2 separate regions of the Homo sapiens genome follow, and region 1 is linked to region 2. The links come from fine-mapping of genetic effects on gene expression. A gene starts in region 2. The other region holds a variant in brackets. All regions are shown on one strand. Distances are between the middles of the regions. Region 1 overlaps GP6 (glycoprotein VI platelet). Region 2 holds the start of RDH13 (retinol dehydrogenase 13).

The links. PIP is the estimated chance that this variant, and not a neighbour inherited with it, causes the effect.
Region 1: its variant is fine-mapped to the expression of RDH13 in whole blood (INTERVAL, PIP above 0.99).

The regions. Positions count from the first base shown.
Region 1 is chr19:55,022,774-55,028,143 of GRCh38, reverse strand. It overlaps GP6 (glycoprotein VI platelet), which reads left to right. Exons shown (of 8, transcript NM_016363.5): 4 at 282-566; 5 at 2,873-2,926. All of the region lies in intron 2 of GP6-AS1 (GP6 antisense RNA 1), which reads right to left. Among named protein-coding and RNA genes, the nearest start is that of GP6, 13 kb to the left of the region's middle. RefSeq lists an enhancer at 1-527. The variant CAACA/A (reference allele first, on the strand shown) is at 3,263.
Region 2 is chr19:55,060,689-55,066,058 of GRCh38, reverse strand. It overlaps RDH13 (retinol dehydrogenase 13), which reads left to right and starts at 2,911. Exons shown (of 7, transcript NM_001145971.2): 1 at 2,911-3,091. The coding sequence starts at 3,027. RefSeq lists an enhancer at 3,601-4,568.

The sequences.
Region 1 (5,370 bases), 38 kb after region 2:
AAGGCAGTGAGGCTCAGATACAGAGGGAGATTTGTCTCCAGGGCCACCAGGCCCCTGAAGGCAGAACTAGGATTTGCACCCAAGCACTAGGACGTGAGCACAGCCTCCTTCCTCAACCACTGGGTGACTCGACCTCTCTGTGAGCTTGGGTGGGGGAGTGCGCTCTCTGGGAGGGATACAGCCAAAAAGCTCCCCAGCTCTTAGGCAGGTGTGGGGACCTCCCCAGTCTCAGCTGAGATGCTGGCTCCTGCCTTCAACATCAGACTTTCTTTTTCTCCCAGGAGTTTTTGCCAAACCCTCGCTCTCAGCCCAGCCCGGCCCGGCGGTGTCGTCAGGAGGGGACGTAACCCTACAGTGTCAGACTCGGTATGGCTTTGACCAATTTGCTCTGTACAAGGAAGGGGACCCTGCGCCCTACAAGAATCCCGAGAGATGGTACAGGGCTAGTTTTCCCATCATCACGGTGACCGCCGCCCACAGCGGAACCTACCGATGCTACAGCTTCTCCAGCAGGGACCCATACCTGTGGTCAGCCCCCAGCGACCCCCTGGAGCTTGTGGTCACAGGTAGGGGTAGTGCAGACCAAACCTTTCTTCCTCAGCCTTTATAGGTCCTGATGGCCATTCCAAGGGAGGGGCCATAAGTGGGAAGGAAGTGGGAGGGCAGGAAGCCCTGGGCTGCAGGGGCGGGGCCGTAGGTGGGAAGGAAGTGGGAGGGCAGGAAGCCCTGGGCTGCAGGGGCGGGGCCGTAGGTGGGAAGGAAGTGGGAGGGCAGGAAGCCCTGGGCTGTAGGGGCGCGGCCATAGGTGGGAAAGAAGTGGGAGGGCAGGAAGCCCTGGGCTGCAGGGGCGGCGCCAGAGGTGGGAAGGAAGTGGGAGGGCAGGAAGCCCTGGGCTGCAGGGGCGGGGCCGTAGGTGGGAAGGAAGTGGGAGGGCAGGAAGCCCTGGGCTGCAGGGGCGGGGCCGTAGGTGGGAAGGAAGTGGGAGGGCAGGAAGCCCTGGGCTGCAGGGGCGGGGCCGTAGGTGGGAAGGAAGTGGGAGGGCAGGAAGCCCTGGGCTGCAGGGGCGGGGCCGTAGGTGGGAAGGAAGTGGGAGGGCAGGAAGCCCTGGGCTGCAGGGGCGGGGCCGTAGGTGGGAAGGAAGTGGGAGGGCAGGAAGCCCTGGGCTGCAGGGGCGGGGCCAGAGGTGGGAAGGAAGTGGGAGGGCAGGAAGCCCTGGGCTACAGGCAGCTGGGAGAATGGAGGTTTCTTTTTTTTTTTTTTGACGAAGTCTCACTCTGTCACCCAGGCTGGAGTGCAGTGGCGCGATCTCAGCTCACTGCAACCTCCGCCTTCCGGGTTCAAGCGATTCTGCTGCCTCAGCCTCTCGAGTAGCTGGAATTACAGGTGCCTGCCACCATGCCCGGCCAATTTTTGTATTTTTAGTAGAGACGGGGTTTCACTATGTTGGTCAGGCTGGTCTTGAACTGACCTCATGATCTGCCCGCCTCGGCCTCCCAAAGTGCTGGGATTACAGGCGTGAGCCACCGCGTCGGACTTGACTACCATTCTTAAAGGGGGTTTCTTTCAAAAAAGAGCAGCATACCTCATAATGTGGTTATATACATGCAATGGAATATTATGCAGCCTTAAAAAAGAAGGAAATTCTGACACATACTACAACATGGATATACCTTGAGGACATTATGCTAAGTCAGTCACAAAAGGACAACTACTGTATGATTCTAGTCAAAGGAGGTATCTAATGTCAACACTGTAGAAACACAAAGTACAATGGTGGTTGTTAAGGGCCAGAAAGAGGAGAGAGAAGGAATTAGTGTTTAATGGGCACAGAATTTCAGTTTTGCAAGAAAAATAAGTTCTAGAGGTCAACATATTGTACCACAATGTGAACATACCCAACGCCACTGATCAGTACATTTAACAATGTCATATTAAATCAAACAAAATACATCATTTAGTTTTTGGTAGAAAAATCTGTTTTGCCCCCAGGGTCACAGTGAGGGGTAGGACACAGGAATCCAGAAGAAATAGAACTGAGGTTGAAAAAGGTGGACGGGAGCTGCATGCATTTCCTTGTTAATAGCCCAGAATGTGCCAGGTGTGCTTTACAAATGCTGCTGCTTTTTTTTTTTTTTTTTTTTTTGGGGGGAGTCTCACTTTGTCACCCAGGCTGGAGTGCAGTGGAGTGATCTCAGTTCACTGCAACCTCCACCTCCTGGGTTTAAGCGATTCTCCTGCCTCAGCCTCCTGAGTAGATGGGATTACAGGCACCTGCCATCATGCCCAGCTAATTTTTGTATTTTTCGTAGAGACAGGGTTTCACCATGTTGGCCAGGCTGGTCTTGAACTCTTGACCTCAGGTGATCTGCCTGCCTCGGCCTCTCAAAGTGCTGGGATTACAGGTGTGAGCCACCACGCCTGGCTAAGCCTTTTTTTTTCAGATGGAGTCTTACTGCGTCACCCAGGCTGGAGTGCAGTGGTGCGATCTCAGATCACTGCAACCTCTGCCTCCTAGGTTCAAGTGATTCTCCTGCCTCAGCCTCCCGAGCAGCTGGGATTACAGGTGCACACCACCACGCCTGGCTAATTTTTGTATTTTTAGTGGAGACGGGGTTTCACCATACTGGCCAGGCTGGGCTTGAACTCCTGACCTCAAGTGATCTGCCCTCCTCAGCCTCCCAAAGTGCTGGGATTACAGGCATGAGGCACTGCACCCAGCTCAAATGCTTATTAACATCCACAACAGTCCAGTGATGTAAGCTACTTTAGGCTCATTTTTCCGGTGAGGAAACTCAGTCACGGAGATGTTTCGTTATTTGTTCAGGACCCACAGCGACAGAGCACAGATTTATCTCATTTTCTGATTTCCCAGGAACCTCTGTGACCCCCAGCCGGTTACCAACAGAACCACCTTCCCCGGTAGCAGGTAGGTTCTGCAGGGTCCATTCTGGTGCACAGCGTATGAGGTACACGGACCCCTTCTCTCTCTCCTCTCTGCCTAGACTTCTCGATTTAATTCAGTTGGTTCTTTCACAGATTTGCTTTGTTTTAAAAATCCTTTATTTCTGCCTGTAAACAGGGTGGGTGTCCTAAGTAGTTAGATGTTAAGATGCTGCCCCCAATCCTACTCTAGGTGGATGGTTTATCACATATAACATGCAGAAGAATAATCGGAGTGGCTTGCTATACTGTGGAGTCCAGCTGGTTGAATATGGGTGACAAAAACAAACAAACTAACCAACCAACCAACCAACCAACCAAC[CAACA/A]AACCTGTAGAGTCCGGGACTCTGTTTCTGAGTCACTGAATGCATTGATCAGCGGTTCTCAAACTTCCATGAGCATAAGAATCACCTGGAGGCTTAAAGAATAGATTTCTGAGCCCCCAGGGCTTCTGCTTCAGTAGGTCTGGGGTGAATCCAGTCATTTTCATTCCTAGTAAGTTCCCAGGTGATGCTGATGCTATGGCTCCAGAATGCTGCTTTGAGAACCACTGCGGTAAGTTTTGTGTGAGGCGTGTTATCCCCTCCACTTTCACAAACATCTCAGCTGAATACGGTGTACCAGACTACGGCCTGCACTTTAAGAATATCATACGCTAGGCTGGAGGCTGGGCGTGTCTAACATTCCCTGTGTCTCAGAGTGAAGCACCAAGGCAGGAGAAACATGCTGGAAAGAGCCGAGGTTGATAAGGATGAGATTTGCGGGGTTGAGGGCAGAGTGAGGGCTATTATGCCTAGTGGGCAGGGACATGGAAGATGGTCACATACTGTGTGCGTGCATATGTGTGTGTGCGTGCATGTGCGTGTGTGCGTGCATATGTGTGTGTGCGTGCATATGTGTGTGCATGCGTGCATATGTGTGTGTGTGCATGCGTGCATATGTGTGCGTGTGCTTCTGACTGAATTTTTGAACTTTCTCTTTTGAAATGGTTCTAGAGTCACAGGAAGTCTACAATGATAGAACAGAAGAATCCCATGTGCTCTTTTTCCAGTTTCCTCTAATGGTTACATCTTACGTAATTAGAGTACAACATAAAAACCAGGAATTTGACATTGGCATAAAGTAGGTGTCTAGTTCTATGCCAATTTGTCACAGTTGTAGATTCGCGTCACCATCACCGCAGTCACTGTACAGAACTCTTCCGTCTCACAAGGGCCTCCCTTGGGCTACCCTTTTATATTCACACCTACACCCTTCTCCTTCCCTTGCCATCCCTAACTCCTGGTATCCATTAATTTGTTCTCCATCTCTATAATCTTCCATTTCTAGAATCTGATGTAAATGGGATCATCCAGTATGCAACCGTTTGAGATATCCTTTTGTCACTCAGTGCAATGCCCCTGAGGCCCATCCAAGCTGCTGTATGTATCAATGATGTGTTCCTTTTGATTGCTGAGCAATATTTCATGCTATATTAGGCCGATTTTGTGCTGCTATAAATATCTGAGACTGGATCATTGATAAGAAAAGAGGTTTAATTGGTTCATGGTTCTGAAGGCCGTATAGGAAGCAGAAGGCTGGCTTCTGCTTTTGGGGAGGCCTCAGGAAGCTTACAGTCATGGCAGAAGGCAAAGAGGGGGTAGCTGTCTCATGTGGTGGGAGCAGGAGCAAGAGAGAGAGAGAGTTGGGACTGGGGGACATGCCACACTTTGCAATAGCCAGATCTTGTGAGAATTCACTTACTATTGCAAGGAAAGCACCAAGCAATGAGGGATCCACCCCTATGATCCAAACACCTCCCACCAGGCCCCCACCTCCAACATTGGGGATCATAATCCAGTATGAGATTTGGTGGGAACACATATTCAAACTGTATCACATGGCATGCAAATACCACACGCTGTGTTGAAATCAAAATCAAAACAAGGTGTATTAAATAGGGAATCCTTTCCCCATTGCTTGTTTTTGTCAGGTTTGTTGAAGATCAGATGGTTGTAGATGTGTGGTCTTATTTCTGAGATCTCTATTCTGTTCCATTGGTCTATGTGTCTGTTTTTGTACCAGTACCATGCTGTTTTGGTTACTATCACCTTGTAATATAGTCTGAAGTCTGAGCCTGAGGCCTCCAGCTTTGTTCTTTTTGCTTAGTATTGTCTTGGCTATATGGGCCCTTTTTTGGTTCCATATGAATTTTATAGTTTTTTCTAATTGTGTGAGGAATGTCAATGATAGTTCAATGGGAATAGCAATGAATCTATAAATTACTTTGGGCAGTATGGCCATTTTCACGATATTGATTCATCCTATCCATGAGCATGGAATGTTTTTCCATTTGTTTGTGTCCGCTCTGATTTTCTTGAGCAGTGAATTGTAGTTCTCCTTGAAGATGTCCTTCACTTTCCTTGTTAGCTGTATTCCTAGGTATTTTAT
Region 2 (5,370 bases):
TGAATGACTTCATGCCATCCTTCCAAATTCAATGACAGGTAGCTGGGCGCAGTGGCTCACGCTTTGTAATCCCAGCACTTTGGGAGGCTGAGGCAGGTGGATCACCTGAAGCCTGGAGTTCAAAACCAGCCTGGCCAACATGGTGAAACCCCGTCTCTACTAAAAATACAAAAATCAGCCAGGTGTGGCGGCGAGCGCCTGTAATCCCAGCTACTCATGAGGCTGAGGCAGGAGAATCGCTTGAACCCAGGAGGCAGAGGTTGCAGTGAGCTGAGATTGCATCACTGCGCTCCAGCCTGGGCATCGGAGAGAGACTCTCAAACAGGAGCTGGCGAACTGTGGCGCACTGCTTATTTTTATAAATAAAGTTTTATGGGAACACAGCTGTGCTCACTTGTTTTCACATCATCTGTGGCTGCTTCCCAGCTCCTCTGGCAGAGGAGGTGCAACAGCCACTGTGTGGATCACAAAGCTGAAATTATTTACTATCTGGCTGTTTGTAGAAAAAGTTTGCTGATCTCTGTCCTGGAAGTCAATGATATTAGGATTTCAGTTTACAGAAAAGGAGAAAAAGACAGGGAAAAACAGTGTTGTTTTTTTTTCAAGGTTGAGAAAATGAACATCTGAACCAATTGCCCATGTTATTAAATGTAAACATTTATTATTATTATTTTTGAGATGGGGTCTTGCTCTGTCACCCAGCCTGGGGTGCAGTGGCACAATCACAGCTCATCATAGCCTTGACCTCCTGGGCTCAAGCAGACCTCCCACCTCAGCCTCCCAAGTAGCTGAGGGTGCAGATGCGTGCCACCAAACCTGCTAATTTTTGTATTTTTTGTAGAGATAAGGTTTTGCCGTGTTGTCCAGGCCGCTCTCAAACTCCTGGGCTCATACTATTCTCCACTTTGGCCTCCCAAAGTGCTGGGATTACAGGCATGAGCCACCATGCCCAGTCTAAAATTTTTCTTTATTTTTAGTTTGGTAAACTATGCATAAAGTAAAATGTACCATCTTAACCATTTTAAGTGTACAATTCAGTGATGTTAAGTATATTCACATTGTTGTGCAACCATCACCACCGTCCACCTTCAGGTCTTTTTTTTATTTTGCAAAACAAACTCTGTATCTATTAAAAAACAGCTTCCCGGCCGGGTGCGGTGGCTCATGCCTGTAATCCCAGCACTTTGGGTGGCCGAGGCAGGTGGATCACCTGAGGTCAGGAGTTTGAGACCAACCTGGCCAACATGGTGAAACCCCGTCTCTACTAAAAATACAAAAATTAGCCGGGTGTGGTGACACGTGCCTGTAGCCCCAGCTACTCGGGAGGCTGAGGCAGGAGAATCGCTTGAACCTAGGAGGCAGAGGTTGCAGTGAGCTGAGATCGCCCACTGCTCTCCAGCCTGGGTGACACAGTGAGACTGTCTCTCAAAAAACAAAACAAAACAAACAAACAAACAAAAACAAATCCTGTGACTTCCCAATCTCATCTCCAGCCCCCTGCAGCCACCACTCTGTTTTCTGTCTCTATGAATTTGACTCCTCCAAGTGCCTCTTATACAGCATTTGGCATTGTGTAACTGGTTTAATACGTTTGAGATGGTGAGAGCTTAAGGTCTACAGGCCTAAGGTTTTTTTTTTTTTGACAGAATTTCACTCTGTCGCCAGGCTGGAATGCAGTAGGGCAATCTCGGCTCACTGCAACCTCCACCTCCCGAGTTCAAGTGATGCTCCTGCTTCGGCCTCCTGAGTAGCTGGGACTACAGGTGAGTGCCACCACATCCAGCTAATTTTTGTATTTTTAGTAGAGACAGGGTTTCACCATGTTGGCCAGGCTGGTATCAATCTCCTGACCTCGTGATCCATCTGTCTCGGCCTCCCAAAGTGCTGGGATTACAGGCGTGAGCCACCGTGCCCGGCCATTGACTAAGGTCTTAAAATAGCTCTTCCTGCCTGTATAATCTCCATTATGGCAGGGCTCATATAAGAAGATGACAGTTCATCTGATGAGGAAGAAAACTTACTCCTAGTTAGATTGGGTTGAATTCTTCCCTGTTTCCAGCGGTGTCTGCTCCTGGCACCTCAGGCACAGTCAGGGGTAGGAGGTGGTGATCAGATACACTCGCTGTGAGCAGTGCAAGGGGAAGCAGGTGCCCAGAGGTGCATCCCGGTTTGGTGGGGGTGACAAACATGGACAGGTAAGTGCAGGAGTGTGTGCAATACTCAATCTAAGAAAGGTAGTTCAGGCAGAGTTCAGGGAAGATATCTCTGTGCAGGGCCAGACATGGGGATGAGATTCTGATAATTTGGGAATGAATCAGGCCCCCAGCCCCTCCTCCCTCAGACTCAGCAGTCCAGGCACCCGGCCCTCCTCCCTCGGACCCAGAAGTCCATGCTCCCAGCCCCTCCTCCCTTGGACCCAGGAGTCCAGGCCCCCAGCCCCTCCTCCCTCAGACCCAGGAGTCCAGGCCCCCAGCCGCCTTCTCCTGCAGGACCCCAGGAGCTTGGGTACCCACAGGCTACTAGATCCTTGTTTCTGTGCATGGAAATTCTCAAATTATCTCCAAAAGTCTATGAAGAAGGTAAACACACATTTCCAGATGAGGGAATAGGCTGATATAGTTGAAAGACACACAGAGGGTCACAGTCTGGAATTGACAGTGGTGGGATTCGAACCTATTTCACTCCAGAACTGCGTAGCGCCTTATACGCTGCGGCAAGTGTGACGTCATTCGAACAAACCATAGGCCCCGCCCCCGGACTAGCCACGCCCACAGGCTCCTGAAACCACCAATCCCAGCTGTGACAGCGCTCAGGACCGATGCTCATAGGTCCCGTCCCTAGGATCCCCGCCCCCTCCGCCCGCGCCCCGCCCCTCGCAGCCCAGTTCCGGACGCGGGCCCAGCCGCGCCTGCGCCTCCGCTCGCCTGTGGCTGCGTCGCGCGCTCTTCCTCGGAGCTACCCAGGCGGCTGGTGTGCAGCAAGCTCCGCGCCGACCCCTGACGCCTGACGCCTGTCCCCGGCCCGGCATGAGCCGCTACCTGCTGCCGCTGTCGGCGCTGGGCACGGTAGCAGGCGCCGCCGTGCTGCTCAAGTGAGTACATTCTAGCCCCGCGTGCGCGGTCAAGGCGGGCCCCCAGCGCAGGGGCCGGGAAGGCGGCGGAGACCCCCGCCCCTCGCACCCGGGTCCAGGCCCCGTAGCTCCCGACCCGCAGTGCCCGCCCGGAGTGGGGCAAACCTGCGCTCTGGCCGGCCAGGTCACCGGCCCAAGGTCACTCGGAGGGAAGGGCGAGCCTGGGCCCTTGTAAATGTTGCTTTCCTTCCAGACTTTTAAACTCTTTATTTTGTTGTTTTGTATTATTTATTTGTTCGTTTATTTTTAAAGGCAGAATCTGGCTCTGTCGCCCAGGCTGGAGTGCAGTGGCGCGATCTTGGCTCACTGCAGCCTTGACCTCCTGGGCTCAGGTGATCCTCCCACCTTGGCGTCCCCAGGAGCTGAGATCACACGTGCGCCACCACGCCCGGCTAATTTTTGTATTTTTCGCAGAGACGGGGTTTTGCCATGTTGGCCAGGCTGGTCTCAAACACCTGCCCTCAGGTGATCCGCCTGCCTCGGCCTCCAAAGTGCTGGGATTACAGACGTGAGCCACCTCGCCCAGCCTACTTAATTTAAACTTTCTTAAAAATTAGCCTCTGTGGCTGGTGGCCACTGTATTGCATGGTGCCCTTCTCTCCTGTGGGTGCAGTGCTGTTTACCTGCTCAGCCTCCTGTTGCTGGACACTATCTTGTTGCCAGCGTTAGCCTCTGTGGGACATGGGTGTGGTGGGCAGAGTCGTGACTCCGTAGAGGGGTCCACGTCCTAATCCTCGGAAGGTGTGACGACATTACCTCACGTGTCAGAGGTTCTCGCTGATGTGTTAAGTGAAGCATCTTTTTTTTTTTTGAGACAGAGTTTCGCTGTTGTTGCCCAGGCTGGAGTGCAATGGCACGACCTCGGCTCACCACAACCTCCACCTCCCGGGTTCAAGCGATTGTCCGGCCTCAGCCTCCTGAGTAGCTGGGATTACAGGCATGTGCCACCACGCCTGTCTAATTTTGTATTTTTAGTAGAGACGAGGTTTCTCCATGTTGGTCAGGCTGGTCTTGAGCTCCCGACCAAAGGGGATCTGGCCACCTTGGCCTCCCAAAGTGCTGGGGTTACAGGCGTGAGCCACCGTGCCCGGCCAAGTGAAGGATCTTATGATTATCATGTAGTCTTTTTTTTTTTTTGGAGACAGGGTCTCTCTGTCACCCAGGCTGGAGTGCAGTCATGCTGTCACAGCTCACTGCAGCCTCACCCTCCCTGGGCTCAGGTGGTCCTCCCACTTCAGCCTCCCGAGTAGCTGACTCTACAGGCGTGCACCACCAAGCCCTGCTAATTTTTGTATTTTTAGTAGAGATGGGGTGTCAGCATGTTGGCCATGGCTGGTCTCGAACTCCTGACCTCAAGTGATCCTCCTGTCTTGGCCTCCCAAAGTGCTGGGATTACAGGTGTGAGGCACTGTGCCGGTCCTGCCTTGTAGTCTTATAGGGTCCTTATAAGAGGGAGCAGGAGGCTCAGTCAGAGGGGAGATGGAAGATAGAAGGAGAGGTTGTTGGGTGTGGTGGCTCACGCCTGTAATCGCAGCACTTTGGGAGGCCAAGGCAGGCGGATCACAAGGTCAGGAGTTCGAGACCAGCCTGACCAACGTGGTAAAACTCTGTCTCTACTAAAAATACAAAAGAAATTAGCCAGGTGTGGTGGCATGTGCCTGTAATCCCAGCCACTCAGGAGGCTAAGGCAGGAGAATCGCTTGAACCTGTGAGGCGAAGGTTACAGTGAGCTGAGATTGAGCCACTGCACTCCAGCCTGGGCGACAGAGCGAGACTCTGTCTCAAAAATAAATAAGTAAATAAATAAATAAATAAAGGAGAGGTTCCAGTGAGGATGCAGGTTGAAGATGGAGGCGGGGCCAAGAGTGGAGGAATGTGGCGGTCTGTAGGAGCTGGAAGTGGATTCTTCCCTAGAGCCTCCAGAAGGAACCTGACTCTACCAATACCTTGATTTATTCCAGTGAGACATGTTTTGGACTCTTGACCTGCCGAACTGGAGGAGGATGCACTTATGTGGTTTTAAGCCACTAAGTCTGTGGTAATGCGTACAGCAGCCTTGGGAATCTCGTGCAGCGGGCATTTTAAATTTAAATTTAAATTTTTTTGAGACAGAGTCTCGCTCTGTTGCCCAGGCTGGCACCATTTCGACTCACTGCAACCTCCGCCTTCCAGGTTCAAGCAATTCTCGTGCCTCAGCCCCCTGAGTAGCTGAGATTACAGGTGTGCACCACCACGCCTGT